3 separate regions of the Homo sapiens genome follow, and regions 1 and 3 are each linked to region 2. Evidence: fine-mapped QTL for protein levels in blood plasma. A gene starts in region 2. Each other region holds a variant in brackets. All regions are shown on one strand. Distances are from middle to middle. Region 1 has its middle 330 kb from the start of TFPI. Region 2 holds the start of COL3A1 (collagen type III alpha 1 chain). Region 3 has its middle 23 kb from the start of TFPI.

The links. PIP is the chance, under the fine-mapping model, that this variant and not a neighbour inherited with it causes the effect. The UK Biobank Pharma Proteomics Project read protein levels with antibody pairs (Olink). The fine-mapping took linkage between variants from a reference panel, not from the people measured, so its PIPs are less certain.
Region 1: its variant is fine-mapped to the plasma level of the COL3A1 protein (UK Biobank, PIP above 0.99).
Region 3: its variant is fine-mapped to the plasma level of the COL3A1 protein (UK Biobank, PIP above 0.99).

What each region holds. Positions count from the first base shown.
Region 1 is chr2:187,876,118-187,887,309 of GRCh38, reverse strand. No RefSeq gene overlaps it. Among named protein-coding and RNA genes, the nearest start is that of TFPI, 330 kb to the right of the region's middle. The variant T/C (reference allele first, on the strand shown) is at 6,261.
Region 2 is chr2:188,964,361-188,975,499 of GRCh38, reverse strand. It overlaps COL3A1 (collagen type III alpha 1 chain), which reads right to left and starts at 1,127. Exons shown (of 51, transcript NM_000090.4): 1 at 932-1,127. The coding sequence starts at 1,010. LOC105373791 (a long non-coding RNA gene) reads left to right here. Exons shown (of 3, transcript XR_007087614.1): 2 at 5,021-5,153; 3 at 8,834-9,042.
Region 3 is chr2:187,571,680-187,582,871 of GRCh38, reverse strand. No RefSeq gene overlaps it. Among named protein-coding and RNA genes, the nearest start is that of TFPI, 23 kb to the right of the region's middle. The variant T/C (reference allele first, on the strand shown) is at 6,824.

The DNA.
Region 1 (11,192 bases), 1.1 Mb after region 2:
AGTTCTATGATTAACATAATTGTGAAACAACCAACATGATACAAAAATTATTGGGTCTTGGTTTATTTGTTTAGAGGAGGAATGGGAACATGTACAAACTAGATGAGAAATTAATGCTTCTCTTCTTATACAGCATATGAAGATCATTAGTATATCACTATATGCCATTGCTATTGCCAGTGAAATTATATTTTATTGTCTGTGACCAAGAATACCACAATTAAAATGATAATTTTAAAGACAGGAATCTCAAATTCATAGATGATTTCTAAACTCAGATTACTTGTCTCCAAGCTGAAAATGTTTTAATGATCTTAGGAAAAAACTACGGCATTCCTTCAGAATATATGCAAAAGAACAACAAAATGAAAGTTATGGAAAGATGTTTGACACATGGACATGTCTATTGATTTCAAAATTCACTTAATAGATGCCACAAAGGCAGGGAATTAACAATCACAAAGGAGAAAAGAAAGAAAATATGTAACATAAAAAATATCCTGAGCTGAGAAAAGATGTGAACTTTTGAATTAAAAGTCCACACTGAATGCCAAGTGGGAATAATCATTTTTTAGATTTCCACCAAGACAAATTCGGATAAAATTTTAGAATTTTAGAATTTTAAGTAAAAAAGGGAAACTCTAAAATCATTTGTAGGGAACATAAAATACAGAAAATAGTGTATATATGTAATTTATATGTAAATACTATGCTATTATATATATTCTCTGTATATATCATATTTGTATTCATATTTGTATAATGTTTATATTTATCATCTATAAATTTGAGATCCTTGTCTTTAAAATTATTTTAACTGTGGTATTACTGGTCACAGGTCACTGCTGTATGTATCCTAGGGACTTGGTGCCCTGTGTCCCAGCCACTCTATCCATGGCTGAAAAGGGCCTAGGTACAGCTCAGGCTGTGGCTTCAGTGAATGTAAGCCCCAAGCCTTGGTAGCTTCCATGTGGTATTGAGCCTATGGGTGCACAGAAATCAAGAATTGAGGTTTGGGAACTTCCGCCTAGATTTCAGAGGATGTATTGAAATGCCTGGATGACCAGGTAGAAGCTTGCCTCAGGGGTGGGGCTCTCATGGAGAACCTCAGCTAGAGTAGTGCAGAAGGGAAATGTGAGATTGAAGCCCCCACACAGAATCCCCACTGGGGGTCACTGCCTGGTGGAGCTGGGAGAAGAGGGCCATAGTCCTCCAGACCCCAGAATGGTAGATACACCAACAGCTTGCACTGTGCACTTGGAAAAGCCACAGACGCCCAACACCAGCCCATGAAAGCAGCCAGGAGGGAGGCTGTACCCTGCAAAGCCACAGGGGCAGAGCTACCCAAAACTATGGGAACCCACATCTTGCATCAGTGTGACCTGGATGTGAGATATGGAGTTGAAGGAGATCATTTTGGAGCTTTAAGATTTGACTGCCACACAGGATTTTGGACTTGTTTGGGTCCTTTAGACCTTTTGTTTTGGCCAGTTTTTCTCATTTGGAATGGGTGTATTTATCCAATGCCTGTAGGTCTATTGTATCTAGGAAGTAAGTAGCTTTTGATTTTACGGACTCATAGGTGAAAGGGACTTGCCTTGTCTCAGATGAGACTTTGGACTGTGGACTTTTGAGTTAATGCTGAAATAAGTTAAGACTTTGGGGAACTGTTGGGAAGGCATGATTGGTTTTTAAATGTGAGGGCATGATATTTGGGAGGGGACGGGGCAGAAAGATAGGGTTTGGCTATGTCCCCACCCAAATTTCATCTTGAATTGCAGTTCACATAATTCCCACGTGTTGTGGGAGGGACCTGGTGGAAGATAATTGAATTATAGGGGAGTTTTCCCCATGCTTTCTCTTGGTAGTGAATAAGTTTCACAAGCTCTGATGGTTTTATAAAGGGAAACCCCTCTCACTTGGCTCTCATTTTCTCTTGTCTGCAACCATGTAAGACATGCCTTTAGCCTTTCATCATGATTGTGAGCCCTGTCCAGCCACCTGGAACTGTGAGTCCATTAAGACACCTTTTCTTCATAAATTCCCCAGTCTTGGATATGTAAATATTTACCAGCTGCATGCGCTCGGCTAATACAACTAATACATCTCCCACTCTCCTACACCCATTCCATCTACTACCACTTTTCTCACAGGAATGTTAATACCAAGTTTTCCTGGGGTGACAAACACTGTTGGGCTGGGTTCTGAAGAGCCAACTTTCTTGGCCAAGCTGAATAAGATGGGGAGACAGAATTATTTAAATATATTGGCCAGAAGCAAAATAGGACCACAAATTCACAAAGTAAAGAGAGTATCAGCAGGAACTACGTAGAACACCTGTGAAGGTCCAGTCTAATGAACATGAAAATGGTTGGTGTGTGTAAATCACCCTTTCGTTCAGTTGAGTATATGAGTAGGCATAGCTTAAATGATTGGAGGAGGTGTGGTTATCTCTTTAGTTTTCCATATTCTGTTACTTCTATCTGGAAATAATCTTCTTCTACATCTACTTGACCCATGCTTTTTATTGTAGCTTTGTTTTACGTTTTTTATCTCTTGTAACCATTTCCAAATCTTTCTGGAAATTTCCTTCAAGAGCACTGTTGTTCATACCCAGTTTTACTTCTGCTCCCATCATATTTTATTCATTCCTATACTATAGCACTTACTATACAATATTGTAGATATTGATTTTCTTTCATGACTTTTCAAGTGCATTGAGAATGCCCTAATTGCAAAGACTATGTCTTCTTCATTTCTGCATCTCAAGCAGTAACTCAACACCTGGTATATCCTAGGAAATTAACGAGTTGATTGAATGTCTAATTAATGAAACCAATAGAGCCCTCATTTATACAAAAGTATTATCATTTGCAAAATTATATTGTGTATCAAATACAACTGTGAAAGATTATCTTTTTTGAATGCCTCTTTCCTTTTAATTTAAAACTTACTTATCAATTATATCACTTTTAAATTTTGTTTCCACTAAATTTAAAAAATATATACTATTTTATTTGATTCATTATTGGGTCAAATTTTCTTCAGTTATAGAGAAAATGGGGATGGATTTCCCCAAATATGTGCTGACTCTTGGGAAAAACTGCCGAGCCAAAATGTGTCTACATGAAAGTTGCTGACTCTACAGAGGTATGTATATTGGCAGAGACTGATCTACTTGAAAATCTCTTCCATATAAACCCTACATTGATTCTTCCTGTTCTAGTAATAAAAATGAAAGTGATAGTTCTCAAAATATAAAAAAGAGCTGTTTTTAAGGACCAAAGTGAATATTTTAGCAAGACTTTGAATTATAGTCAATTATAGCAAATAACATTATTATAATTAATAATTAAAACTTTCCAGTATGTGAGATAATGCATATGTTAAACAGATTTAGCTATTTTGCAACATATATTATTTCAAAACAATATGTTATACATATAAATATGTAAAATTAGTATTTGTCAATAAATGTTAAAGATGTAAACCAAAGGAAAAAACATTTCTCATTTATTTATTTGGCCTCTATGTTACTTATGGTAACATATATATGTATGTAAAATATGTATTTTACCATTATACACACATGTGTGTGTATATATAATTTTATAAAAATAGTATAAACACAACTCCAGTAGATATTATATGCATGGCTTAAATTTTATGATTAAAGTAGAATATTCCCAAATATGGCATCCAGAAATTTCCTTGGAATGAATAGATAGCTGAACAAAATCTTAATTTGTACATCTTGTTTGAAAGCACTTTTAAAACAATGTAGTCAGTAATATTTTATTAGCGCTATCCTAAGTAACTGAATTATGACCAGTTATATATTGATCTTCTATCCTGAAATCCTGCTGAACTTACAGTATAGGTAGTTGTGTGTGTATGTGATTTGATAAGGGTGGGGTTGCGTGGATCCCCTTAGGGTTTTCTATATAAAAGATCATGTCATTTGTGAATAAAAACAGAATGCTTTACTTCTTCCTTTCCAACCTGGATGCCTTCGATTTCCTTTTCTTGCCTAGTTGTACTGACTGGAAACTCCAGTGCAATACTAAATAAAATTGGTAAAAGTGGGCATCCTAGCCTTCTTCCTAATATGAGAGAGAAAGCTGTCAGTCTTTCACATTAAATATGATACTGGCCTACATTTTTGATAGATGCCCTTTATCAATTTTAGAAAATTCCCTTTTATTTCCAGTTTTCCATGACAGTTTATCATGAAAGTGTGACAGATTTTTGTCAAATACTTTCCTGTGTCTGTTGAGATGATCATGTGGTTCTTGCCCTTTATTCTACCAAAATGGCTATCAAAAGACAAAATTACAACAAATTTAGTTTAAGTATTTCAGTTGGCCTTGTTTTTAATTCTGGAAGCACCAAAACTTCATTCCATAAAATAGAATAAGTGTTTCAATGAGCTGAACCAAAAGGGTTGGCTCTTTAGACAGGGAAGAACTGAAGAAAGCAGAAGCAAAGAACAAAGAGCATTTTATTCCTTTCAAAGATGCTTTTCTGGTAAGGCAGGGACAGGTGGACAGAACAATAGAAAATAACTGATTAGTCAACATCAGGTTACTTAAAGCTACCATTTTTGTGTAAGGATTAGAACACAGGGAACTTCATTGTTATGCCCATTGAAGTATTTAAACTGGTCTGTTCAGGAAATTGGCTATTTCTCCTGATTTCTTTGATGGCCAGACAACTTAGTTTGGGTTGCGTGACTGTCCTTTGCTTTTTAGTCTGGTCTGTTACAGCCTAATATAGGCACTTCGTCCAAAACAATGGCCTCCTATATTTTTTAAACATGGTGTATTACATATATTGATATTTTTGGATCTTAAATTGACCTTACATAACCATAAGAAATCTCAGTTGGCCATGGTGTAGAATCTTTTTTATGTGTTACTTAGCTAATATTTCATTGAGAATTTTTGTATCTGTGTTTTTATTTTCATGTAACATCTTAGTCTGCCTTTTGTATCAGGGTAATACTGGCCTTCTGGAATAATTTGGTAAGTATTCCTCGCTTCCTCTCTCTTTCTGGGAGAACATGTGAAGAAATAGTATTATTTCATCTCTAATTTTTTGTAAACTTTACCAAAAAAGTGTCTGGGCTTGGGCTTATCTTTATGAGACAGTTCTAAGTTACTAATTCAATTTTTTATGTCGTCTGTTTATTATAGGTTTGAAAGGTGATAAGGAGCATATGCCAGAATATAAATCAATTTACCACTTCCTTCTTTGATAAAGTTTTGCCATTAAAAAATGCTTTAAAGTCATAAAATAGTTGGTTTACAATCTAGTACATTTTCCTTATATTATCAATGACAGTATCAAATATTTTGTGGATTAGTACCTGTCCATGAACTACTGTTTGATAGCAATGGTCTAAATCACTACCTAAACTATGAAGATAGAATTAGTCAAGGTACTTGGGCAGCAACTTGATAGCCTAAACTACCTAACACGTAAGGAAAGATTTATTATGTTATTGTAGGAAAGTTAAAACTTTCTCTCTGACAAGTTGATAATTGAGTCTGCTGAAGTAAACTGACAATAGACAGATCAACAGGAGAAAAACACTCTCTCATGTGAATGGGAGTCACACAAAGTATGAAAACTCAAAGATGGGCCAGATGATTGAAGATTAAATACCCTCTTCATAGGAAAGAGGGAAGTGGGGAATGTAGGCAATTTTAGAGGAAGAGTAAATAATTTTTAGGGGAGATAAATAGGCCCAAAGAACAGATAATAGCCTGGAACAAAATTTCTATGGCTCTGTGTGTGGTGTCAACTCTAGACTTCCTTCCTGAGAGTTAATCTTCTGTTTGGTGAGATTATAAGGGCGGGACCCAAGACAATTGCATTTATTCTGGAGGAATTTTCCTTAGCCAGATAAGGGAATTTTAGGAAAAGCTCCTCTCTGTGCTTCAGGAGAGGCAGAGGGGCAAAACATGAGAAGCGGGTGTGGGAGAAGGTCAGAGAGACCTTGGTTCTGAGGCTGTTTCCTTTGTGCAAAGTACAGTTGATCCTTAAACAACACAATGTTGAATGGCAAGGGTCCTTGTATATGCAGATTTTTTAAAAATAAAAATTACACCAAGTATATCTGCCTCTTCTGCCTCACTTCTACCTCGTCTACCTCTTCCACCTCTGAGACAGCAATACCTACCCCCCTTCTTTCTCTTCCTCATCCTTAGCCTACTCAACCTAAAGATGATGAGGATAATCTACTTCCACTTAATACA[T/C]AGTAAACATATTTTCTCTTTTTGATGTTTTTCTTAATAACATCTTTATTTTCTCTAGCTTACTTATAAGAATGTTGTATATAATACATATAACATACAAAATGTGTGGTAATTGTTCATATTATGGGGAAGGCTTCTGGTCAACAGTAGGCTATTAGTAGTCAAATTTTAGGGGATTCGAAATGTATGTGTGAATTTTTCACTGTGTGGGTGGCTAGTGCCCATAAGTCCTCCATTGTTCAAGAGTGAGTTGTACTCAACAAGTCAAAGCACCATACTTTGGGGTATCATTTTGCTGAGCCCCAACATTTTGCTGGAGAATATCATGGAACCTAAGGATAGGGAAATGGCCAGGTCTAAGGCAGCATCTGTGGCAATGAACTGGAAAGTCTTTTTGACAACTAATAAAAGACATTTTCTCTATAATCTTATTTTTTTACACTAATCAACTTTGCATCTTTTACATAGTAGAATGCAACTACTTAGAATTCTCTGATTACATATTTTGATCTTTGATCTCATCCTACCGTGGATGTCTATCTGTTTCTATAATGATCACTTGTAAGGGGTCATGGGCATATAGTACAAACATCATGTTTTGGGGACCCTAACTACAGGGATGGAAAAGGCATGCAGCAGAGAACATGGTCTGGCAGAAGCTACCAAAGTGTCTCCTATTTATACTTTAATATGATGTACCTTAAAACTCACTTTTGGGACTAGCCCAAAAAACTTGTAGCGCATTACTTTAAATGTCTCCAATTTAGGTAAATATTTCAAGGTAAAAATTACCTTTCAGACAGCCATATTTAATTTTGTTTGAACTTGTTATTTGAATCAACTGGGTTATCAGGCTATGCATGTAGCCTTTAGAAAAAAAATAAAATAAGGTGAGAGATCCAATATTCAGTCTGATTTCCTATATTGGTAATAAGTCATTTGTAGAGCTTACCAAAGAGTCTGAAAACATATTGAGTAATGGAGAAATGCATAAACGCCTAAGTACATCATTTAAAAAAATAACATTTATTCAAATATACGTAGTCTTATTTGGAAATCTTAGTAATTTACTCTCACTAATGTTTATCATATATTATATGGAGGCAGTTCCAGACCAAAGACAGTAGATGTGAAGAAATAGTACTCAATTAACAAAGGGGAGACTTGGTTTAAAAAAAAATGTGTGTGCGTGTATGTGCGTGTATATGTGTATATGCATACATACACATATATATACAAATAAATACATGTAAATACGTGTGTGCATATAAAATACAATATATTTCATATGTGTAACCTCGCTAGCATAACAAAGTCTTATCACTCAGGAAATTCCAAGGGATTTAGCAGCTCTGTGCCAGGAACGAGGGATAAAGACCAAGTGTCTTTTTAATTGTAGCACAAAAGGCTATTATAATTCTTATCCTTGTTTCTCTATAAGTAAGGTGTATTTTCCTTTGGCTTCTTGTAAGAATTTGTTTTTTCTTTGTTATTTTTCTGCAGTTTTAATGACACGCCCACCTGTGGGGTTTTTGGTTTTTATTCGGCTTGATGTTCTCTGAACTTGCTGCATCTGTGACTTGGTGTCTACCACTAATTTTTAAAAGTTCTTGGCCATTACTATTTCAAATATTTCTTCCTCTCCGTTTCTTCTGTTTTTTTGTTTGTTTGTTTCTTCTTCTGATATTATGTTCACACATATATTACATCCTCTGAAATTATTGTGAATATTCATATTCATTTTTTTTTCAATTCCTTTTCTCTTTGCCTTTCAGTTTAGGAAGCTTCTATTAAGTTACCTTCAAGCTCACTGCTTATTTCCTTGGCTGTGTTATGTCTACTGATGAACCCAAGAAAGGTATTCTTTATTTTTATTGCAGTTCTAGAGTCTTCAAATTCCTTTAGTGTCTTTGTTTTTAGCTATGCTCTTGACTTTGGGCTTTTCCTAAGTACCTCTTCTAGATAGTCTGTATGTTACAGCTAGTTCAGCTTTAGAACCCACAGCTATCATATGAAAGCACCGTTGGTATGGTAAAATAGTGTGGTAGAATGGGAGCCTTCCATAAGCTGATTAAAACTCGATCTTTTGGGAGGCCTGTGTCTCAGGGTTGTAAACTTCACAAGTGTTTCTCCAGTGATAAAGCTTTTTCCTCTTATAATTAAATCATTGTACCATGGCCCTATTTATATCTTTTTTTGCTGTCTATAATGGAAATAAAAACCAAGACAGTGCTTATTTTTTCATATATTTATAGGTTCAGATAACTAAATGCATGCAAATTTTGCACACTCTAAGTGGCTATGGTACACTGTCAGTGAGCAACATCTATTTTATTGGTGTGTTAAGCAGAAAAACTGTAGTATGAAAAGATAATACAAATATCCTGCTAATATCTTTATTTCAATAAATTGAAATTAATATGAATGTAAAAAGTGAATAAAGACACACACACACACACACACACACATTTAAACTAGATTTATTCACATGAGAAAAAAGAACAGATTTCCAAGTTTGACCCTAGAGGTTTTAGATACTTGTGTAATAGGCATATGATCTAGTGTTCTTTTTCTTCTGTTTAAGAGTCTTTGAATTAATTCACATTTGAAAAGGCCAGAAGAGAATGAATCTTATTTATTTATGATATGTCTTAGTGGAAAACTTCATGTTCATATTAAAAAAAGTACTAAGAGGAAAGTAATTTCAGATGCTGAACAATCAGCAATTTAAGCAAAATCTGTCAAAACCAGATGTTGTTTTGACAATCCATTCTAAATAGACTTGTTTTGCATTCCTATCTCTGGTTTCAAAATAACAGTACACCAAAACAATGTAGTCTTCTGTAAAAGAGATTCTGTTTTAGTGCGTAATGTTGGAACAAAACTTGTTGAGGGTGGGTGGATGAAATAGGATGATTCCATTGCCAATGAATTGAATTAGAGTGAATTTATTTATTATTAACATCCAACATAATTATCATAATTATTTCAAAAGTAGGTAAACAATAGTTGTATTTTTAAATTTTATTTCTAAAAGACTTTTTGGAGGGCAATGCTTTTTTTGTTTGAAAACTGGCCACTCTGTATTCTTAATTTTTGTATGTTTAAAAAGCCTGGACCCTTTATTTTATTTTTCAAAATAAATTCTATACTGTACTATTTACTCTATTAAAAAAGCTTAGGCAGATAATTTAAACAATGCATGCATTCTATTAGTAACAAAAGAAAAAGGATAAGAACGAATAGCTTTCTGTGTGCAAAGCAGGAATCTGAATGGTTATAATTTACTGGGGTACAAATCATTTTGAAGGAAATAAACATCACAGTGTTGTCCAGGTTAGCTGAGAATTAATTTTGATAAGTGAAGAGAACCCAACAGAGTAGAAAAGGAAGTGTTGCTAAGGAAAGATCCAGCAGTCTGCAGTTAGAAGGGCAAGTCTTGGAAGTGACAGTGTTCCTTTGAGTGGAAGAGCAGGCTAACTTAACAAGGGACTTTTACACTTGCAGTAAGTGCAATTCTGTCTAGCAGGTTGATAATTAAACTTAACAGCAAGTCACAAATATGATTCTTTCCTTCTCAGGTTATAGACAGTGAGATGATGACTTAGATGCTTATAACTAGAATAACACTAAAATAAATCAGATTCTTTAGAACAATATGTAAAGATAATTGTGAAGAAATTAAGATTTTTATACAGGTTCAATGGATAAAACTCAAAATCATAGTTTAGTGAAAAAAAAAAAACAAAACTCATAGCTTAGTAGAGTAATTTGAAGAATTTTTTTATCTGTCCATTGGAGAAGTATTACTCCAAATGCTACTTATATATCAATTTTAGCTATTTAAGTTATCCTGCCATATTTTAATGAATATTTTGTCATTAAATAATAGGTGGTTGGTGATACTGCCATTTGTGAAATTCAGTTAGTTTTATCTGCCTTCCAAGTACAGCTTTTATCTTTTATTGGACTTAGTTGTATTTTACAACATTTATTAGATAAAATCCCAGCTATTTGACAAGCTCTGGAATTTGAATTCAAACAAACATACATTATGTCCTACATAATTTATTAAGCTAATTCAATGATATAACTGTTGATTTATAACACGTTTGAAACTGGAGTTTTCATATATTTGCCAACTCAGAGTTAGCAGACAGTTTCTGTGTTTGCTTACAGAAATGTGAAATAGCCCTATAGGTTTGCAACGGAATGATGATTATCTTCAGCTATCTAAATACCAAACTGCAGTTTTTGCTTATTTCGGTAGTGTAAATCCAATTCCAAGCTATCAATGAGTCATCATTGAACCCAGAGTTGGGAAGGAATTTGATTAATGGAGATAGTCAGTGGTGTGCTGAAGCCACCACCTTTCAGCTTTTGACAACTGATTGTTAAATTTTCAGGAAGTTTGTGAGCTGTTACACGGTACTTTTTCCTTACATCAACAACAAATAAATCCAAGAACGTAGATAACTGTTAAATGTAGTAAAATAATTATGAAATGATGGTTTTGACTATGTATTTCAATTTTAGTATAATTTATTTAATTGTAAGGTTATATAACTTATTTATTTATTTATTTATTTTTTTGAAATGGAGTCTTGCTCTGTCGCCCAGGCTGGAGTGCAGTGGCGCGATCTCCGCTCACTGCAAGCTCCGCCTCCCAGGTTCATGCCATTCTCCTGCCTCAGCCTCCCGAGTAGCTGGGACTACAGGCGCCCACCACCAGGCCCGGCTAATTTTTTTGTATTTTTAGTAGAGACGGGGTTTCACTGTGTTAGCCAGAATGGTCTTGATCTCCTGACCTCGTGATCCGCCCGCCTGCCTCGGCCTCCCAAAGTGCTGGGGATTACAGGCTTATTTTAAAAATAATAGTTGTGTTTAACAAACTGGCTTACAAAGTTTTTTAACAATCAGCACACCACTCAC
Region 2 (11,139 bases):
TTTCTATGGAAGTTTGTATTCCAATTTGTTCAGCATTTTCATGACTATGGTAAATAAAAGAATATTTTCACATAAATAATGAGACAAATGTGTTTTTAGGGGAAATTAGAATATGAAAAACATTACATGCAATTATTAGAAAATATAGCAAAACAGCTTTCTGAAGTCAAACAGTACTAGTATCTTTACCTTGTTTGCAGCAAAGTCAAACCTCCTGTTGAAACATTTTAAAAAATATTTTCTTCATTAATGCGAATGTGGTTAAAACGTAGAATATGTGGAAAATATTAGTCCCTTAATATCAAGCTACTAGAAAAGATGAATTAATCAATCATTCTTGAAACAAAATAAAAACAGGAATAATAAAATATTTTAGCAGTTTGATCCCTTTGAAGAATGTTTATAGGTATCTTGTAGCCATTTTACAGAAATATATTCAATGATTCTGATAATGCGTAGAATCTTCCTTTAGACTGTTCTTAATCCATGATATTTGAAAGGCATTCTTATTCAGAAAACAATGCTCAATATTCTAACCTTACAAAGAATCCAGCAGACAAAGAGGAACATAAAATTATTGCAAGAGACCAATAACTTCCAGACTGCCTGGGGAAGTATTCCAAGATGTTAACAATCCAGGAGGGAAAAATTTTAAAGCCATTTTTAAAAGTTTCCAGTGCCTTTAACATGAAAACAAGTTAGTACAAGAACATCTTATCTTAACCACAGAACTCTTAAAAACACACATAACGCGATTATTTTTCAAGTAATGTAAAAAGCACAGCCATGGTCAGTTCAACGTTTCACAATCTGGAGCTTATAGAGGAAATTATCTTGAATCAGGCAACTGATTTTCCCCTTTACACCCCTCTTTGTGAGGAGAAGAAAGACAAAAATCCCATAAAGTTTCTTGAAATCAGTACCTACTCACCTTCCTGTTGTGCCAAAATAATAGTGGGATGAAGCAGAGCGAGAAGTAGCCAGCTCCCCTTTTGCACAAAGCTCATCATGTCTAAATATCAGACATGAGACTCTTTGTGCAAAAAGGAGAAAAGAAAAGCAGTTCAAAGTAGCACCATCAAGTTGTTCCCTGCCCTTCAGCACCGGGCCCGTCATAAAACTCAGCCACTGAGATTCCTTTGCTTTGGCCTTAAATAGGAAAAAGTTTGGCTTCCCTCACTTTCCAGCCCCTTTCTGAAATATGAGAGCCGCACCCATCCCCTCAGCAGTAAAAGAAATGATAAATATTTCTTTTTCCCTTATAGAAGACACAACCCACAGTAAGAAAAAGAGCACATCTGGAGTTTGTATGCATCTGCTTATGTAAAAGTTTTTTTACATATTTCACTCTTACATATATGTTTGTATAACTTAGGAACGTATAGAAATGCTCTGCCTTGTTTTAATACATACAATGTAAATGCATACATTTTTATTTCCCCTTATGAAGTTAACAACTGCATAATTTTGAAAAACTGCTTGATGCCCATTTATCTAGTATGTCTAATTTACAGAACTGATCTTCCTAGAAGATTTTTATGTTGGGATTTTGCCAGAAGTAATCCTAACTCAATTTAAATAGGAGACTGTAAGAGACTCACGGAAAGAAATGCCACCGTATGCCCCTTCGACTCATCCACCCACCCTGGGTCCTAGAAGTTAAGTTTCAGGCAAATATCAAAAGACAAAGTATTTCAGCAATGTTTGAATGGCTTCCTAAAAGTTAGATACTTATCTATAGCTGTTTCCATTTCTCACAAATTTCTTTAGCAAGCCAGAGTGCTTTCTTGTGAGATTTCCAATTTTTATGCTGCCTGGGAAAGACAGAGCAGATTTTTCTAGAGAAAAATTCAGCCTTTTCATGACATAACTTTTTAGGAAACTGGAAGAGAAAGAGTTTATCACATAGAATAGCAAAAGAGTACCAGAGAAAGTGGTCATTTTTTCTGCATTACTCTAAAGATTAGTATAAATATTTCTAATTTAGACTTTTATGTGTATACTTTCCAGATCCTCATCCACAAAACTTTCCAATGTATTTCTGGATCTATCTAAGCAGTAATTTTTGTGTCATATTTGAAAGAGGGGCAAATACCATTTATAGGTCTTTGATAAATCTCTGCAGGAAAAATATGCTTGTCCACAGTATAAGGCTATATCTGGCAATGGAGATATCTCTTTACACCCTAATCATCAGTTCATAGTTAGTTCATCTATCTCTATAATCTACGGTGGACATTTCAATTCTAATCAAGGTCACTTGAACTAATTTTCTTCACCTTCACCTAAACATGTCCGTCTCTATGCCTGTGCACATAAAATTCTCCCCATTTCACACCAATTAATGGAAGTCACTTCCTTATGCCTCAATGCAAAACTTTCCTCCTTAAGTAAATTACCTCCTTTAAACTAATTTTCATCTTTCTCTTTCTTCTAATTTGTGTTACTAAATTTTCACTCAACTCATGTCATATGTATATTCCCAGGTGTACATGAATCCTGTAAGCATGGACAGTGGCAAACTTGCTTTCTTGTTTCTTGCATCTTTTTTTTTTTTTTTTTTGCGACGGGGTCGCCCTCTCTCGCCCAGGCTAGACTGCAGTGGCGCAATCTCGGCTCACGGCAAGCTCCGCCTCCCGGGTTCACGCCATTCTCCTGCCTCAGCCTCCCGAGTAGCTGGGACTACAGGCGCCCGCCACTACGCCTGGTTAATTTTTTGTATTTTTAGTAGAGACGGGGTTTCACCGTGTTAGTCAGGATGGTCTTGATGTCCTGACCTCGTGATCCGCCCGCCTCGGCCTCCCAAGCTTTCTTATATCTTCAGTCACAAGGACACAAACCAAGACATCTCAATGTAGATGACATCATTTGATGACAGGAAAGGAAAACTAGAACGAGACCAACCTCTTGTGTATCTTTATTTTAGATTGGAGAGTCACTGCTTGGGGGCGTGGGAGAAAAGTAACTGTTGAGAATGGTCATGAATATAAGCTTTTCTACTGGATCACAGTAGAGATGCTGGGGAAAGGCTGTTATATGCATCTTTCTGTCTTTCAGACATCTTTGTCCTGTACACAAAAAATATTTCCTGTGTTCAAACCAATTCAGAAACATAGTTTTTCTCATGATGTCTTTGTATCTACGTAGAATTCATATATCTATATTAGATTTCTCTCATTGTTTTAGGTGGTCTATAAAAGCTGAAATTTATTGAATTTCTTCATTAGATTTATTTTCCACTGTGAAAAATTAGAAATGTTATTTTTAAAATAATGCTTGTTATGCTTTATTTTAGGCATTATAAATAAAATTACTATTGTTCTAAAATTCTTAATTTGCTTAGCTATTCAAATAAAAGCCTTATACTCATGAGAAAAATTCATGATTGATGCACTCACTTAAGAAACATTAGCTGATGTTTTGCATATGGAAGGATTGTTGTATTTTAAGGTCTTCAGGAGAGACCTAGAGAATTCATTCTCCAGATATTCTGATTTACGATTCTTCACTACCTCGAATATGGAGGTTTTGCACTAGGATCCTTTGCATTCTGTGTCCCAGATCCTATTTTTCTACCTCCTGTCAAAGCATTTCCTAATACGGGGTCAAAGCATTTCTTAATACAGGGTCTGAACTAGGTGAAATGCATACACTTCTGAATCCTATTATGCCATCCAGGAACTGCTGTCCTCATTGTTATCTAGCCACACATTTCTTCCCATACTTCCCTGACTTCACTGATGTTAACCAGGACACATAAACATGTCATTTTGCTTTTTGGATTGCATTTGGAGCTTTAACACAAATCTAAATACCTGCACCAACTAAAGCACTGATTAATCTGGATCTCCTTTAACAAAGAGAGTGCCTGGAAAGATGAGGCAAAGCAAGGGTGTGGCAGATTATCAACCAAAAATTCAAATCTTTTCCAATTCAGTGGAAAGTGGAGCTTGAGAGAGATGCACAAGCACAGCTGTGATGAACTCAGTAGGCCAGTGAATGCCAGCAGCGCTTTCTACAACAGCACTAAGAAAATCAATTATCTCCACCATGGAAAACACATGGAACAGAAATGTTTCAATGTTTCTCTCTTTCCTCTCCCCTCCCCTTTGTTGTGCGGCTTTATGTGTGATTTTCTTTTTGAAGCCAGCAAGATGCTTTATTTTTAGGGACATTTTCTAGATTTCAAATCACTGTAAAGCCATTTAAAAACTACTTGTGATAATAGAACTACCAATACAACTGTAAAATACAATGCAGGTCTTCTTTATTATTCCCAGAGAGGTTGATCAGTTCACTCAGTTGATAAAGGTAAAACCACATTTGAAGAGTTGTGTTTCCTTTAAAAGAATTTGAACAAATACTAGTATGTGCATAGTAGAGCCAAAAATATGGTTGAAAAAGTCATGTTGTACTTGCAGGACTTAAACATATTTAACCATAGATATGTCCAGGATTGAGGCAAATTACACTGGCAGTGGGACATGATAGTCCAGTTTTTGAGTGATTATATGACCAAGTCTTCAAGACCCTTTTCTTTAATTTCCCCTTAGTCCCCAAGGTAGAGTTCATTGACCCCTTGTTTTTTTCTTATAGAACCATTTTAATAACCATTTCTTTTTAGCCTGGAAATTTCACTTTTGTACAAGATTTATATTTTCTTGACATTTAGTAAAATAAAGTTTTAGTAAAATTTAGTTAGGAAACACGAAGTATCTCAATTCCTATCTATTCTTTGTTATTAAACTTAAGGCTCTAAATTTTTATCTTTGTATTTTGCAACTGAAAAGTATCCCAAGAATGAACAGAAAGTTTAAAGAGGTTACATGACTCTCAAAATTACTCATTGGAATTGTAAATAACTAAAAATTTTCACTTTTGTACAAAATCCATATTTTCTTGACATTTAGTAAAGTAAAGTTCCAGTAAAATTTAGTTAGAAAAAACTGAGTATCTTGATTCCTACCTATTCTTTGCTATTAAAGCTAAGGCTCTGAATTTTTGTCTTTGTGTTTTGCAGCTGGGAAGTATCCCAAGATTGAACAGAAAGTTCAAAGAGGTTCCATGACCCTCAAAATAATTCATTGCAACTGGAACTGACTAGCACACTTTACAAATATTTTCACCATGCTTTCCACTAATCACTGATTGTGGTAAAGATATTTTTACGCAATTTAGAAGTGTGGTAAATACAAATCTGACACTTAATTTTGTATGTTTTCTAATGAGGCATTGTGAAAGGATGAAAAAAATGATAATGTTATGGAGTTAATGGCCAATTTACAAAAATTACCATTCTGATTTTTGTCTTGTCATTAATCTTTGAGTAATTTTCAGTATTGTATTTAAGTAAAAGTCCACTACTTTACACTTAATGAAGTACAATCTTAGGGCATGCAAAAGAGTTCACATATGTGTTTTTGTGTGTTTGCGTGTGTATATGTTTATATACCCCCCACATATATATGTATAATTAAATACGTATGTATATACTTTTAAAAGCTGACAAAAATTCAAGCAAGTAAAAATTTCTAGGAAACTTCCTTAATATACATGTAAGATAACTTGTATTTGTTATATCAATGTTGCTTCACATAAGTAGATAAGTAGCTATGAGTTTTTGCTTATGTAGACATAAACATGTCACCTGAAATCTTATTTAACATAACAGACTATTAATCATTGAAAGGGAAACTACTGGTAAGCCTCTACTTGAATTGTGAAACTTTCTGAAGTATTGTAAGCATGTTCTCTTGAACGAAGTTCTGATATACTTATATTTTAATTATAGCTTTATTTACTATCATAATTATTATTGTAATTATATTTGAAAATTCATAGGAAATTGAAATTCATCTCCTTACCTAATCTCATTCCTGAATAGTGTGATTACTTTATAAATTTACCACAGGGGTGACACAGAAACTGGGATGCCACATCGTGAAGCAGCTCAGGCGTTCCCTGTTGAGTCTTCAGTTAACTTAATCATTCTCAGGGTTGAAGCTCCACTCTGCAAATCCCACTAGACTCTCTATCAAATATAATTTGTCATCTGAGTCATCCTTAGGAATTTTCAGCAATATCCAACACAGCTGTAACAGCTCTTCAGATGTAGCCAATTCTGTGTAAAGATAAAAGGAAGGCCCAAATCACGATCTTCTGATAGATACATGAAATAGGTCAAAGCCAAACAGGGAATCTACATGCTTCAAATGGAGACTGATTTTTAATTCCTATCAATATCTTTTCTATTCAGATACACAATGGGGGCTCAGATTTAGGATCTTTGATTCCAAATAATTCTTAAGTACACAAAAATTGAAAGCCTCCTCATCAGGCTCCCTTGCCTAAAATAAACAGACATAAACAGACCTTTCTGTGTTTAACTTGCCATGACTATTAAATTGTCTACTAAATTGTCTAAAGCCTTCATTTTTGTCTGTACATTAAATCATGTTTAAAGAACTCTACATTTAGGTATGTTCTTGGTATATGTTCTTGGAGGAAGGAGGCCACAGCAAATAGTCTCCTTTCGTTCCCAAGGATTCAAGTGTTGCCCTCTGGAGTCTTGGCTTTCTTGTGGCAATGTCCGTTTTAGAAGCATTGTTTTGTATTTCTTTATGTACTTATTTTACTCCTCTTTGTAACCTTTTTTGTTTCCTACCCTCACCCACTTTTAAAAATCATGAACAGTAGTAAACACAGTCCCTTGTACATAATGAATACTGATCAATGTAACGAAGACTGACTGAATTAGGATGGCATTAAATAGTATTTAAAATATTACGTGTTTAATAATATAAGCATTTCTTAAAAAAATCAATATAGGACCCAGACCATGGATCAGTTTCTGCTCTTCACCTCTTTATTTTATAGATATCAGATATATTTCATAAAGTGATTAAGGTGAAACATATGACTCATGAAAATAAACTAGTCCAAGTAGAAAGTCTTCACATAAAAATTATGCCATATTGATTATTCAAAGTGCTAACCTTTGGATAATAATACTAAATAGATTAATATAATTTGATTTCTATTATTTCATGTCCAGCCACTCTCTCTATTTCTCAACCCAAACCCAGCAGGATACAAAACACTATTTTAGATAATTCTTGATATGCAATTCATCTTGATCCAAGAACTATCTTCTTAGTAAATCAAATGGCTCTTTTTTTTTTTTTTTTCCAATACCTACTCTACATTTCTGGGTTTCTATACCTTTGCATATACTGTCTTTCTGTCTAAAATGATTGTTCCTCATTCTGTATGTTCAAATCCTATTTTGAAGATTCTACCCAAAGATCAACTAATCTACAAAATCTTTCTGATCCTCCCTGTTAAAATCATTTTGCTCTTCTTCTAATTTACCTTACCTTTCCTATGCCTCTTAGTTTATTTTAATTTACATCTTTTTATGTCGTTTACTAGGCTGAAAGCTACTCCAGGGAAAAACTAAGGTTTATCTTTCATTTTATACTCCATCGTAGCTATTACATGGCCTTGTGCATAGTAGGAAATTAATAAGAATCAAATGGCGAATGATTTAAAATATGAAACACTTAATCCAGAAAAACACATTTGAAGTAATCTATTTCCTTTGTATCCTTTAGAACTCATGGTAATTTTCAATAAGTTAATTATTTCCAGTATTTCCATCACTCTTAAAAAAGAAGGTCACTCTTTCCAGCATAGGAAGTCTTTGGATTTATAATCGATTTAAAAAACTTCCAGATGTTATGAATTTATTTATAAAATAGAAAAAATAAACAATAGAACTAGTTAGGAAATAAATTGAAAGCAGTCAAACTCTGTGTTCACCACAAGTATTACAAGTCAGAGACCATTAGAAAAATTTATAAAATAGAAAGAAATACAGGTAATTTACCAAGGATCATGAAAGAGAATGACAGAAAAGCCAAAAGTTAATTTCAAAATGAATTGAAATAATTGAACTAGAAATGCATCATAATTTTAATTTATTTTTATTTTAGGGTAAAAAGAAAAAAAATGACATATAAATAAGCATCATGAAATTAAAATGCTTCAAAGAGGAATTATCACACTTTTTGTTTAAATTGTTTTCATTTTTCTTGACTCAATTTCCTTACAGTGAAATTTTTAAAAGGAAAAAACTGTGCAAAATGTCAAATAAAAAAAGAAAAAATACAAATCAAAATACTGAAAATTCCTTACCTTCCCACAAATACAGACACCCCACATGTAATGTAAGACAAATGTCTAAAGCTTTATATTTTATTGCTTGATTTATTAGCTTCAATTCCCATGAGAATTGTGGGAACTTCAATCTGTTTAGTTGAGCATGCTAAGGAGACATACAAGGCAGGTAATAGTATTCTAGAGTGGTCCCTTTATGTGTAGAAATTGTAATCTATTTTTTGGTTGTTCAGGGCAAGGTTAGCTGCAAAGTGGACAACCACATTGACCTAGATTCAGCATCAGGGGTGTGTCGCCATGGATTGTATCCTGGTGCCCAGCTAAAACAGTCACTTCTAAAATTTTAGTTAGGGTGTGGCTGGCGGTGTTAGATCAACAGCTGAAGGCTAGCTGTTGGAGGTAATGTGTGATCAAACTGGGTAGGATTGTGTGAGATTTCCCTGACCCTTCCCATTTCCTAACTTGAAGTTGTGCAAGTGACATACTTTTTATGGAGAGGAAGGGGAGAAAAAAAGTACATTCGCTGGTTATTTGTTATGATGACTAACTAGAAAGAAATAAGTAGCTAAAATAAGGCTCTTGAATTATTTTATGATACCAATATTTCCCATTCAAAATATGATCGAGAACTGTTTGATCTTTTGTTATCACATAGATTTAGAGGTGAAAAAAGATACATCTTGGAAGATTTCATCGAAATTAACATCAAGCTGAAGAAGATAATTTTATAGCTGCACTTTTTGCTATAGCAAACACCAGGGCAAAATATGGCCAGACAGTCAACTGGGACAGCATGACACATCACTGGAAAAAATGATTGTTGAGTACAAAATTACGAGAAAAGTAAAATCATTGTTGAAGCCACGTTAGCATACTCTGCTCAAATTATATCTGATTCTCTAGACACGTCTTTTGGAAGATTCCCCAAAACAAAAGCAGAGGAATTACATAAATGGTTTTACAGGCCAACCTTTCTGATTTAGTGTGCTGTAAGTTGCTTACAATGTTTCTCCAAGTAGGGGATCCAGGAAAATTCCTAGGGGTTGTGGATTTTGGAATTTCACCAAGTCCTTAATGATTGCAGCCCACTAGTTAGCAAAATCCTTCCTAGCTGTTATTAAGAAGAAAGTATGACAAGGCAACCAGAGGAAACAACAGCAGCAGTGATAGCCAGTCAACATCTCCAGTGCCTATATGTACCCATCACGGTGTGTGTCAGCTTTCTTCACTGTTATTCCCACCACTACATTGCTGTAGTTAACTTTTCTTCTGCTTCACTAGAAATAAGGATAATGCTTCTCATTTCTTCTTCTCAAAAGTTTAGAATTTAGGGACAATGGGCACCAAAATTTTGGGTAAAGATATTTTACAATATTAAAGAAGAATACCTAAATATGGATCATATTGAATGGCTGCATTCCAAAAGTGCTTCATTTATGTTCTGATAGTTATAATAATTTGCTCATAATTATTACTTTATGTTTTCTGCAAGACTGGAAGCTCCTCGGGGAAAGAGTTGCGTCTGTTTTGGTGGTCACTGTTTCTTTAGCACCTAGCAAGCAGTCCAAAAGGGCAGACATTTGGTAAGGACCTGTTGACTGATGAGATGCTGAGATTCTAGTCAAATATGGATGATTCAAAGTTTTCTGGCAATATCATTATTTGTCCAATCTATTTTATATAATTTAAGTTTAAATTAACCCCCCCCCCCAATTTTCAACCTTGAGTTGTGGTTTTATAAGAAAATTATCATTTTATAATAAAAGTATCCATGTGTGAAATCTTAGGACATTTTTCTTCATTTTTTTTTAACTTCCAAATTAAAATCCCTGCCAAGTGAAAGAAACACAAGGAAACTCAAATAATTTGCCAGAGTCAAGTTTATTAACATTTTCCCAAAGCCTATCTTATTTGAACTGTTTATTTTGGATCCCTATCCAAGAGATAATTTTTTTTCCCAAAAGCTTATAAGAAAAAGCTTGGCTTGCAAATGTTAGTTTGCATAGATAAAGGCAAAAAATGGGGTTGAGTGAAGAAGAGGAAGAGAGTCTTTCACAATTAAAGTAGTCTCAGAAATGGTTTTTGACTGTGCGATTTAAGTAGTTAGCCCTAAAAAGTGTCATGCAGAGAGCTTCAATCATCTCAAAATAAAATCTGAGAAATATTAAATATCTAATGTCTGATGCAGTTCCTGGCATGTTAGTTGCTCAGCAAATGTGTATCTAATGGTGAATTATGAAATGGGCTACATATGTTGATTTTCTTAGTATAAAAAAGTTGTTATGAAAAAATAATTGTAGTTTTTTTATAATTAAAACAATAAAGCATTTCTGAATAATCATAGCTATACACACACATGTACACATATATAAACTTAGAATAGGGCTCGTGCATACTAGGTACTATACACTCACACACAAACACACTCACATACACACACAGAAAGTACCCTCATCACATTCTTATGAATGTGTACTACTTTCATATGTTTTTTTTAAATGAGTAAACTGATTTGTCTAAGATTACACACTTGGTAAATGCCAGAGCCAAGATGCTAATCCAGGAAGTCTGGTTCTGGAATCCATTCTTTTAATCCCAATATATTGTGTGAATTTAATACCCCTATGCTTTTAAATATGTCAAAACTATATATTCAAATAAGTGGTTTCCTCTTTGATGGAATAATTTTGAGTAACTACATTTTGTTCAATTTTTTCTCAATTACTTATTTGTTCAAAACATATTATTGTCGTGTTCCTATAGGTGGAATCATTGAGGGTAGGCTTAATTGTTTTTAAATGCCAAAAACAATTTGTTGCAAGTTGTGGTTTGACATTGCATCAAAAAATATGAATACATAGTAATGATTCTGATTTTTTGAATGTCTCATAAAATGATCCTAAAGGAAATTCCATAGAGTAGTTCCAAAAGTGTTTTTGAAAAATATGTGAGGATCCAGTC
Region 3 (11,192 bases), 1.4 Mb after region 2:
AAAGCTATGCTTTATGTCTGAATGTGTCTCCTTTCTCCTTTGGTAAAAAATGTACTAAAATGTTAAGTTCCAAGCAAACAGAATTTTTCCTTTTTTGTTTGTTTGTTTACTGCTGTAGTCCCAGTAGTGGCACATAATAGTTGGCCGATAATAGTTGGTGAATGGATGATTCAATAAATGCACTCTTTGTATTATTGTGAGGTGAGAGGCAGAAGGCATTATGGTAACTATATTCTAAATATTAAAAGTTATTAATCAAGCTAGTATGTTGTTACATAAAATATTTTCCATCCCATTTAGACAAATATATTTCATAAAGACAATTGAAAGATATGTTATAAAGCTGTATTTTTTATGTTAGGAAAATTGACAAAATATTTAGACACATCAAATACATTTTTTCTGCATATTTAGGTATTTAGTTAATTGGTTATGATGCTTGGATTAATAATAAATGAAAATACATAGATAATTCATAAGTATATGTTTATTCCATATTGATCTTCCTTGCCTTCATTTCAGCAAAACCAGTAATTATATTGCAAGCATGATCATTGCATCATTTTGTTGTACTGTATTTAAGCGCATGCAATTTGAAATATTTTTTCAAAAATGTAAATTCAATTAAATTTAAACATTTTTAAACATCATCTTTTCAATAAGTTTTTTCTTCTAAAGAATTCAAAATTACTTATTAAAATGCAAATACAAATTGCAAATTTATTATGAATATGAAAATTTAAAATAGCCAAATGAAACCGAAACTTTAATATTATTTAAAAATGACTATGTCTTAGTAAATGTTTTAAGAAAAACAAAACCATCATCAGTTCTAATATTCACCTAGCTGCCAATAGAAAGAACCATGATTATACTTTCTGTGTTGTTTATAGACTTATATATTAACAAATTTGAGTTAAATGAATTGTCGTATATAGGAAAAGGTTCTTTCCCCTCCTTGTACAACTGGTACAAATACCTCATTTATTTGTATGTTCCTTTAGAAAGGAATTAGAATCAAACTAGGACACTCAGCACTTTTGGGAAAATAATGCTTAACATTCTATGATCCATTCCATTATTCCTGTTACTTGGGACAAAGGATTTGACGGGGTAATTACTTATTTTTTATCTTAGCTGAGCACTTTTGCCACTCAAATCCTTCTTGTACACAGAAGCAGGAAAATGGGGTAGCTTTCAATGAAAAAGCCTGAAACACCTTAATCCAGTGATCGAAGTGAACATTGATCGAGACAAACCAAAATGAAGTGCCCCCTGGTGGAAGGAAATGAGAACAAAACAACCTCACTTTTGTAATAATCCTAGAAGATAACGCATAACCTGAATTTAATTATGTGGAAATAACAAGTTACTCCAAATTAAGGGCATTCTAAACATGCCTGTAATCCTCAAAAGTGTCAATAGTAGGCAGTCATATTAAAAACTAAGCTATATCTCTATGTGGTTATATGGAATAAACCCTAAGACATATATTTTAAGTTTTAAAAAAGTTAGAGACCAGTATTTTAGTTTTGAAAAAAATTCTAAGCATTTAGAATTCATTTCAGAACAACAAACAGTTAGTGATTGTCACCTCTGGGATCAAGTAGAGAGTGAGAAAAATATATTTATTTTCCACTTCCCACTTTTCTGTACTGCATAATTTATTTTAACCTGAATATAAATTGTATTTAAATTTTTCTTGAATAAAATGTATTTTGAATTGTTTTGAGTACTACAACCTTTGTTTTTGAGTCTCAGAAAATAGGAAAATATTTTCAGGCCAAAAATAACACTGTTGTTAATTTAGTCAACACGAGACTAATCATAGCTTATGACACTTGGAGTCTCAGTCGTCCCTGTAATTAACTAGCTATATAGGTGTTTGGGCAAGCACTTGAATTTTTTGAGGTTTAATTACTAATCTTCATAAATGAGTTTTCTTGTAGTTTTAACTTTCTTTTTAGAACATGAATTACAATTTATATATCATGTCGTCAACAGAGGGCAGTAATTAACCACAAGTAATCCCTGTTCTCTGAGCAAGCATGAATCATTTTAATAGAATTTGAAGAAACATAGTATTCGAAGGACCACCATTTTCTTCTCTATTCCTACAAATTTTGATCACATTCCAGTTTTCTCCTCTCCAAACAAAGACTTCAACCAACCAAACACTTCTTATTTCAAACAACATCAGTCCTTTGGGTTAGAAATAAAAACATAATAAAAGAAGAAAGATTATAAAAATAATTTCATGATGACAGAAGGGGCCTTGCCAATGCGAATCAAAATGTCACTTACTCTCTGCCTTCTAATCACTTGCATAGTGGGTGTCGATGCATTAGTGCCCACTGGAACGATTACAGACAAAGGAGTAACAGATTTGAGTTTAAACTATGCTTGGCTCCTTACTGCCAGTAAGTACTAAAACTCTGGCCAATTTAATTGAGCTTTCTAATAATTCTCAAATTTCTTTAGATTTAAAATAGTGACAATAGCTACCTTAGAGGATTGTTTAAAGATTAAAATAGTTATTTGAAAAGATACAACAGTACTAGGTATTAAATAATGTTTATTATTACTATACTACTATTATCATTATACAGATTTGTGTTAGGACAATAGTATCTAATAATAGAAAGAATATTGCATTTTATCCTTAAGCTTATGTGTATATATACATATATGCAAAATATATACGTAAGTTTATGTAACATATGTAATATATGTACATATGTTTACCTAATATAAAATAAGCAAAGAACATAAATAACGATTCACAAAAGAAAAAGAAAAATATCCAATAAGAAAATTAATATTCAACTTCGCTGTTACTCAATGGACTGCAAATTTAAAATTTTGCCAGGTTTTGCCTATAAAACTGAGAAAAAAAATTTAAGTGTCATTAAAGGAGTTTACTATCATAAACTGTAAAGTGCAAGTGACTAGAAATTGACATAAAAATATAATTATTCACCATGGGATTCAAATTTTAAATTTTTTTTTAAAAAATCTGAATATGAGATGAATAAAATTTTTTCTTTACATTTTAGATGTTGAATAACCAGTGAAAACCTCCCCAAGATACACCAACCTGACTCTCTATAAATTAAAAGGCATAAATAAACAGAATTTTACATGAATAACTTATTTCTAAGCAGCTTTAAAAGGAGATATATCAAAAGGTGAGACATTCTTCAGTTTGTTGTAATCCTCCTTCAGAGTAAAAGTTGTGATCATTGGTAGAATTCACTTTATTGTGGTTTTATCTGTCTTGCCCTTTGCTGTTTTTTTAAATCCTTGAACGGTATTTGTCATATAGTTGGTGCTTAATAAATATGTCTATGTGATATGTATATGTGCTATTTTTTCATACTTTTTAAAGTTTTTTCTAAGAAACTTGTAAGTAAAAATATTTTAATAAAATGTTTATAAACTTACAGGAAATTATTTTCAAATGTCTAAAATAGAGATTATCTGTTAGCAATATTTTTATGATTCTTACCAAAAATCAGTCAAACTCTCTGTCTGCTAACCATTCTTGTTTTTGTAGATGTGTCTTGTATTATTAGACAAAGGGAAATAGATAATCACAAAACCATTAGCTTTGTGATTGTTAGTGAGCCATGTTTCCTCAGAGTTCCAAAAAGCATGGACCAATGTCTTTTTTTTTTTTTTCTGGTTCCTCTTAGAAAAAATTAGTGAAAACACAAATATATACTTAATAAAGACAAAAAAAATATTTTGAATAAAAATTATTATTCAGACCAGGTGTGGTGGCTCACACCTGTAATCCCAGCACTTTGGGAGGCTGAGACAGGCAGATCAGAAGTTTGAGACCAGCCGGGCAACATGGCGAAACCCTATCTTTACTACAAATGCAAAAGTTAGCTGGGTGTGGGGGCACAGGCCTGTGGTCTCGGCTACTCGGAAGGCTGCGGCATGAGAATCATTTGAACCCGAGAGGATGCAGTGAGCTAAGATCATGCCACTGCACTCCAGACTGGGTGACAGAGTGATACTCTATTCTCAAATAATAATAATGATATATATATAAAATTCAAACTTAGTTACTCATAGAAGACATTTGAAAATTCAAGTGATCAGAAGGAATATAGAATAAAAAAGACAAAGTGTATTCAATTTCTTTTGAACTCATACTCTGGTATCATTGAGATATATGGTCATGAACATAATCTTTGAACTCTAATACAATACAGACACATTTTAATATACCACTGTACATATTATATATAGAAGTTAGTCCAATCCTCACTCAGAAGAACTTGTACTCTGGTCTAAGTCTTGTTTTAGAATAAATTTACCCACGTCTGGCGCCTTTACTCCTTTAGTCAATACTCAACCAATGCTACTCTGCCTCTACAAATTTTTTATGAGATTGTGGTAGCCTAGAGGGAATATTACCAGGTAAACATTTCTATACTTTTAAATTGTCCTCCCTGGGAGATAAATCTTCTAATAGTATCATACTACCATTGGAAGATGTAGCCACTTACGTAATAAAATATAGAAGTCCATGGATCTGTGGCTACAACCTGGCTGACTTCATAAGCTGGGACCAGCCTAATTCCTTTGAAGTAAAATATATTATTAATACCAATGTGGTAGCAGAGATACAGGCCTTCTAAAATATATTGCCTATGAAATTCAGACATTTTATAATCATTTAAAAGATGCAGCTTTCTAACAACAGATTGTTGGTTTAGTAACTAATCAAACATTTGCAATTAAATAACATGGCTAATAAAATAATGTATTAGAATACAAAAAAAAGTGAAGTCATTCAAAACAGACCACACACTGATAGACAAAATATAATCCATTTAAAAAAAAAAACAGAAACATATATCTGTAGAGCTCTCCATGACTGAGAATATATGGAATAACGTTTTACAATGCCTATAGTTGGGAAATACATATGAATAATATGTACTATTTAAATTTTGTCTTTATGCTTTTATTATTCTCCATAATTAGCAGATATTCTTAGTTAATCAAGTATTTTATTTTACTGGCATTTATTTTATTATTTTATTTTATTTGAAATGAAAATCAGTTGAGAGAATGGCCATATATCATACCCAAATAAACTTTTCTGAGAAGCTACCTGAGAGCCCCAAAGCTCACAGGTAGATAATTAGTTCAGAGGGAGAATGTGAGACACAGAGCATAGGAACAGACAGTTAAGTAGAACACCCCAGATGCAGTCAGGTTTTCAGAGTGAGGCTCAAAGTGGAACAATGGTTCCCAACTGGGAATGATTCCGTTCTTCACTGAATGTTAGGCAAATTCTGGAGACATGTTCAGTTGTTACCATCAGGGGCAGTTGTGTACTGGCATCTAGTGTATAGGGACTAGCAATGCTGCTACATAGCCTGCGGTGCACAGGGCAACCTACTGCAACAAGGAATTACCTGTTCTAAAATGTCAATAATGCCCAAGTTAATATACCTGAGGGCAAATATACAATTTCACTGCTGAGAAGGACAACACATTAGAGAAAATCAGCTACATTTGTACCTGCTTTGCAGGACTGAAACCTTCCTAAAATGAAATTCTGTTCTCAACTAAAGAAATGAACAGAGTCTAGAAACTGCATAAGTCAATTCAGTTGAAACTTTTGTGATGCTCAGAGGTTATAATCAAGGAAAGAATGAAGATGACTACTAGCTGGTCTTGTGCACTCTGAAAAAATCTGGGCAGGATTGTCTTATCTAATCAGCCAGGCTTTCTCAGGCCAGGATCCATCAAGGGCTTAGTTCCCTTTATACAGTCTGAAACAGCAGGAATAGATTGTAAACTTAATTCTTTCTGAGGTCAAAAGTTCCTTAAGCATTCTTAATCAATAAGAGAGATAAGATAATCTATGCCACAAGTAATTATCCCTGAAACTCAATTCATAAAGAGACAGAAATCAGCAAATGTGTATACTGGTGGGGAGATTGCAGTAAAATGGACCTATCCTTACATGTAATTTTCCTGGGAGATTCAAAATGAAATGGTTTTGTATGAGAAGACAAACTTCTTATGCAATTTGCTACTGTCCTTCCTTGCAGGACAGTTAAAATTTTGTCTCTGGACCTATGAAATTATTCAATGTGGTGATCACAGAGTATTTGAGTACAATTTTTGCTAAGGGATGGGTAGTCCATCCTAGGCGGATAGAAGGCTTGCCGCTCTATTAAGTAGAAGGGAAAAAAGGCTCAACTTCTGTGGTTTATACCATGCTATATTCATATACATGATCATCATGCATTATATATACATTAATACAGCACCAATAATAATACTTAAGAGTTAAAATAACTCAAGTTAATTACTTAAATACTAAGAGTTAAAATAACACTGAAAACAACAAAATTCGTTAAAAATAAAATATTATATACAGGATTCAATATTAAATGATTTTCAATGGAATACAAGCAATAAAAGATTAAATGAATAAGAATGTGTTACAAAATAATTAAAATAAATGGCCTAGTAAATGAAAAGCCTAAAACCAGTTTAAAATATAGAAAATAAATAAAAGCAAAACAATTAAAGGCTCATTAAAGAATAAAACACAGAATGGTTAAAAGTATAAATTCTGAGACTTAACATTCCAATGCAGAAGCAAACAGGGTCCTGAGAGATGTAGAAACCATAAAAGCAAAGATAACTGTCCCCTGAGGTTTGACTTTTTTTGAAGGGGGTCCAGGCAGATATCCTAAATGAAATCCATACATTCTAAAACTCTGGTGCGCACAACAGGGGTTAATTTTCAGGGACAAGGCTGTGAATTTATTCTCAGCAGTTTTGC[T/C]TCTCCTTTCCATGGTCTTTTCTTTCTTTTTGTTCACTCACCCAAGGTTTTGTGTGTATTAACTGATCCCTTACATACTACAAAGAAAAAGGGATCATTAATTTGCAAACCTCTTAGTCCTAAAAAGTTCAGTGAAACAATACCTCATAATGGTTAAACTCAAGGATTATAGAGTTGGAGTTAACACTTGTAAAGTTATTTAAACATCCTGTGTGCTATCTTAAGGCATTGTTAAGAAAATCAAGTGTGTTTACTTTGTTAAATTTTGTAATAGCTTATAATCGTTTTGGTGAATAATGGTTTTATAATTCTGTGTTAAGTAAAACATTACTTTTCTTAATTAAATCTGAGCTTAAAGAGAATATGGTGAGCAGACCAATCACACTTCTTTATCAGGTGCATTTCGCATGTGCCAGAACCTAGGAGAAGAGATTGGACAAATGTTTGAGCACTTTTTAAATTGCCTATTGAATTCTCAAAGGAGGTTACATTTTTCCATCTGGACTTTTTTTCTCAATTAGGAAAATTCCCAGAAAGGATAGAGCAGCAAGCTCAGCAGGAAATCCGTGTTCTGAGTTTTTATCTTTCACATAGAGTTGGGGAAAGGCAGGAAGAAACAGGAAATTTAGTCTGCTAGTCCCCCCTAACCAATATCCATTTTTCACAGATGGAAACAAAAGCATACACAAAAAGGGAAATAACAAATTTCTCTTGTGTGCTTTCTCTTGGGCCACAAAATAATTTGTTCCAAGATTTATATTTAATGTTGCAAGACTTAAAGTGATGTCAAGATTACATACAGTGTTATCATAGCTTTCAATTTATTTAGTTTACATAGTTCACATTCTGTGGTTTTTCTTTTAAAATAAAGGCACAGCATAAATGAAGTTTGTTTGCTTTCCTCAAGAGAAAGAGAAAATACAGGCAAAAAGAAGCTTCTTTTGAGGGAAATTCAGAAGGCATTTGTTGCCATGCATGCCTAGCACAGACAGCTAAAGAGAGCTGTAGGTTAAAATTCTTAAATCTTGCCAAAAACGGTCAGCTGCTTTGTGAGAAAAAGCTATTGAAAAGAAAAATCAGTACATTTAGAAAAAGAGTGCTGTTAGTTCCACATGGTTATTACATTGGAAGTTTTTTGGTTATCACATCTTATGCAGATAACCAGGAAAGATATTTTTTACTTTTCATGTACATTGACTTTGGAAACTATATTATAAAAGAGAATAACATCATTATATAAAAGCAAAAGAATACCTGCCCTTTTTATGATGTGATAAAAATGATCAGATTAAATAATGTTTGAAGGACTTTTAATTCGTTTCTACAAATATTATCTTGATAACAAATGGTTATTTTTTCTTTCATTTAGGTAGTTATTATAATTTTTAAAATTAAGCATTTTGGAAAGAATGAACTGTAAAAATGTCTAATATTTTTCTGTTGTATATGTTCTAATTTATTTTTAATTTAAATATTTGAAAACGAGGAAAAGTAGAAAGGAAAATATCCCAAAATTCCAGTAGCAATCATCCACAATTAGTAAATACTAGCATTTTCATTGTAATTGCTCCATGTTATATGTAATAATTTATATTTTATTATATAGTATTTTGTGTAAAATACAGTATTATTTAGTATTTCATATAAGATATATAAAATATTACATGTATAGTTGAAGGCCACATTATTCTTTATAGTCTTTCCCTATTGCATTCCTCTCCCCTCCTTTCTAGAACAAACAACAAAATGTAACTATATGTCCTTTTATTGCATATATAGCTATGTGTATTTCTAAAATTAGGTAAATGATATTGTTCTTAACTTTTACTCTGATTTATTTTTTGTCCTGGTCATGTGTATACTGTATTTTATCTAAATACTGTATTACTGTATTTTATCCAAATAGTCTTCTATCAAATGATTATACCAAAATGTATTTATTCAGTCCACAATGATTAATTTTTAAATTGTTATGTCATTCTTTCACAAATACACATGCACATGTTCATTTACTGCAGCACTATTCATAATAGCAAAGACATCGATCAACCTAAATGCCCATCCACAGAAGACTGGATAAAGAAAATGTGGTTGGTACATATACACCATGGAATACTAGGCAGCCATGAAAAAGAATCAGATCATATCCTTTGCAGTGACATGGATAGAGGTGGAGGCCGTTACCCTTAGCAAACTAACACAGGAACAAAAACCAAATACCACATTTTCTCATTTGTAAGTGGGAGCTAAACATCAAGTACATATGGACACAAAGAAGGGAACAACAGACACTGGAGCCTACTTGAAGGTGGAGGTTGGGAAGGAGGTGGGGAGTGAAAAACTATCAGATACTGTGCTTATTACCTGGGTAACAAAATAATCTATACACTAAACACTCATGACACATAATTTACCTGTATAGCAAACCTGCATATGTACCCCTGAATTTAATGTTCAAAAAAATTAATTGCTTTCAATTTTCAGATTTTATAAAAAATATTACACATATCTTTGTATAAGGTGTAAGGAAAGGGTCCAGTTCAGTTTTCTACATATGGCTAGCCAGTTTTCCCAACACCATTTATTAAATAGGGAATCCTTTCCCCATTGCTGTTTTTTTGTCAGGTTTGTCAAAGATCAGATGGTTGAAGATGTGTGGTGTTATTTCTGAGGCCTCTGTTCTGTTCCATTGGTCTATATATACCTTTTGGTACCAGTACCATGCTGTTTTCGTTACTGTAGCCTTGTAGTATAGTTTGAAGTCAGGTAACGTGATGCCTCCAGCTTTATTCTTTTTGCTTAGGATTCTCTTGGCTTTATGGGCTCTTTTTGGTTCCATATGAAATTTAAAGTAGTTTGTTTTTTCTAATTCTGTAAAGAAAGTCAGTGGTAGCTGGATGGGGATAGCATTGAATCTGTAAATTACTTGGGGCAGTATGGCCAAAGTAATTCTTCCTATCCATGAGCATGGAATGTTTTTCCATTTATTTGTGTCCTCTCTTATTTCCTTGAACAGTGGTTTGTAGATCTCCTTGAAGAGGTCCTTCACATCTCTTGTGAGTTGTATTCCTAGGTCTTTTATTCTCTTTGTAGCAATTGGGAATGGGAGTTCACTCATGATTTGGCTCTCTGTTTGTCTGTTATTAATGTATAGGAATGCTTGTGATTTTTTCACATTGATTTTGTATCCTGAGACTTTGCTCAAGTTGTTTATCAGCTTAAGAAAATTTTGGGCTGAGACAATGGGTTTTTCTAAATATACAATCATGTCATCTGCAAACAGAGACAATTTGCCAGAATCTACAAGGAACATAAACAAATTTGCAAGAAAAAAACAAACAACCCTATTAAAAAGTGGGTGAAGGATATGAACAGACACTTCTAAAAAGAAGACATTTATGTGGCCAACAAACATATGAAAAAAAAAGCTCATTATCACTGGTCATTAGAGAAATGCAAATCAAAACCACAATGAGATACCATCTCATGTTAGAATCGCACTCATTAAACAGTCAGAAACAACAGATGCTGGAGAGGATGTGGAGAAACAGGAATGCTTTTACACTGTTGGTGGGAGTGTAAGTTAGTTCAGCCACTGCAGATGACAGTGTGGCAATTACTCAAGGATCTAGAACCAAAAATACCATTTGACACAGCAACCCCATTACTGAGTATATACCCGAAGGATTATAAATCATTCTACTATAAAGACACATGCACACATATGTTTATTGCAGCACTATTCACAATAGCAAAGACTTGGAACCAACCCAAATGCCCGTCAATGATACAGCCGATAAAGAAAATGTGGCACATATACACCATGGAATACTACACAGCCATAAAAAAGGATGTGTTCATGTCCTTTGCAGGGACATGGATGAAGCTGGAAACCATCATTCTCAGCAAACTAACACAGGAACAGAAAACCAAACACCGCATGTTCTCACTCATAAGAGAGAGTTGAATAATGAGAACACATGGACACAGGGAGAGGAACATCACACACTGGGGCCTGTAGCGGGGTGGAGGACTAGAGGAGGGATAGCATTAAGTGAAATACCTAATGTAGATGATGGGTTGATGGGTGCAGCAAACCACTGTGGCACATGTATACCTAAGTAACCAACCTGCATATTCTGCACATGTATCCTAGAACTTAAAGTATAATAAAAAATGTATATTACATGTATCATTGTTAGTATTTACTGGTGCATAAATGCAGAGTGCAACTTTTTTAAGAATATTAGAGATATAATTTCTGGGTTGTAGATTATATATAATTTTAAAATAACTAGATTTGGCTTTGGGAATTTTTTAATTTAAGAAGGTCAATGGATATTTATTATTATGGCTAGTGAAATATATA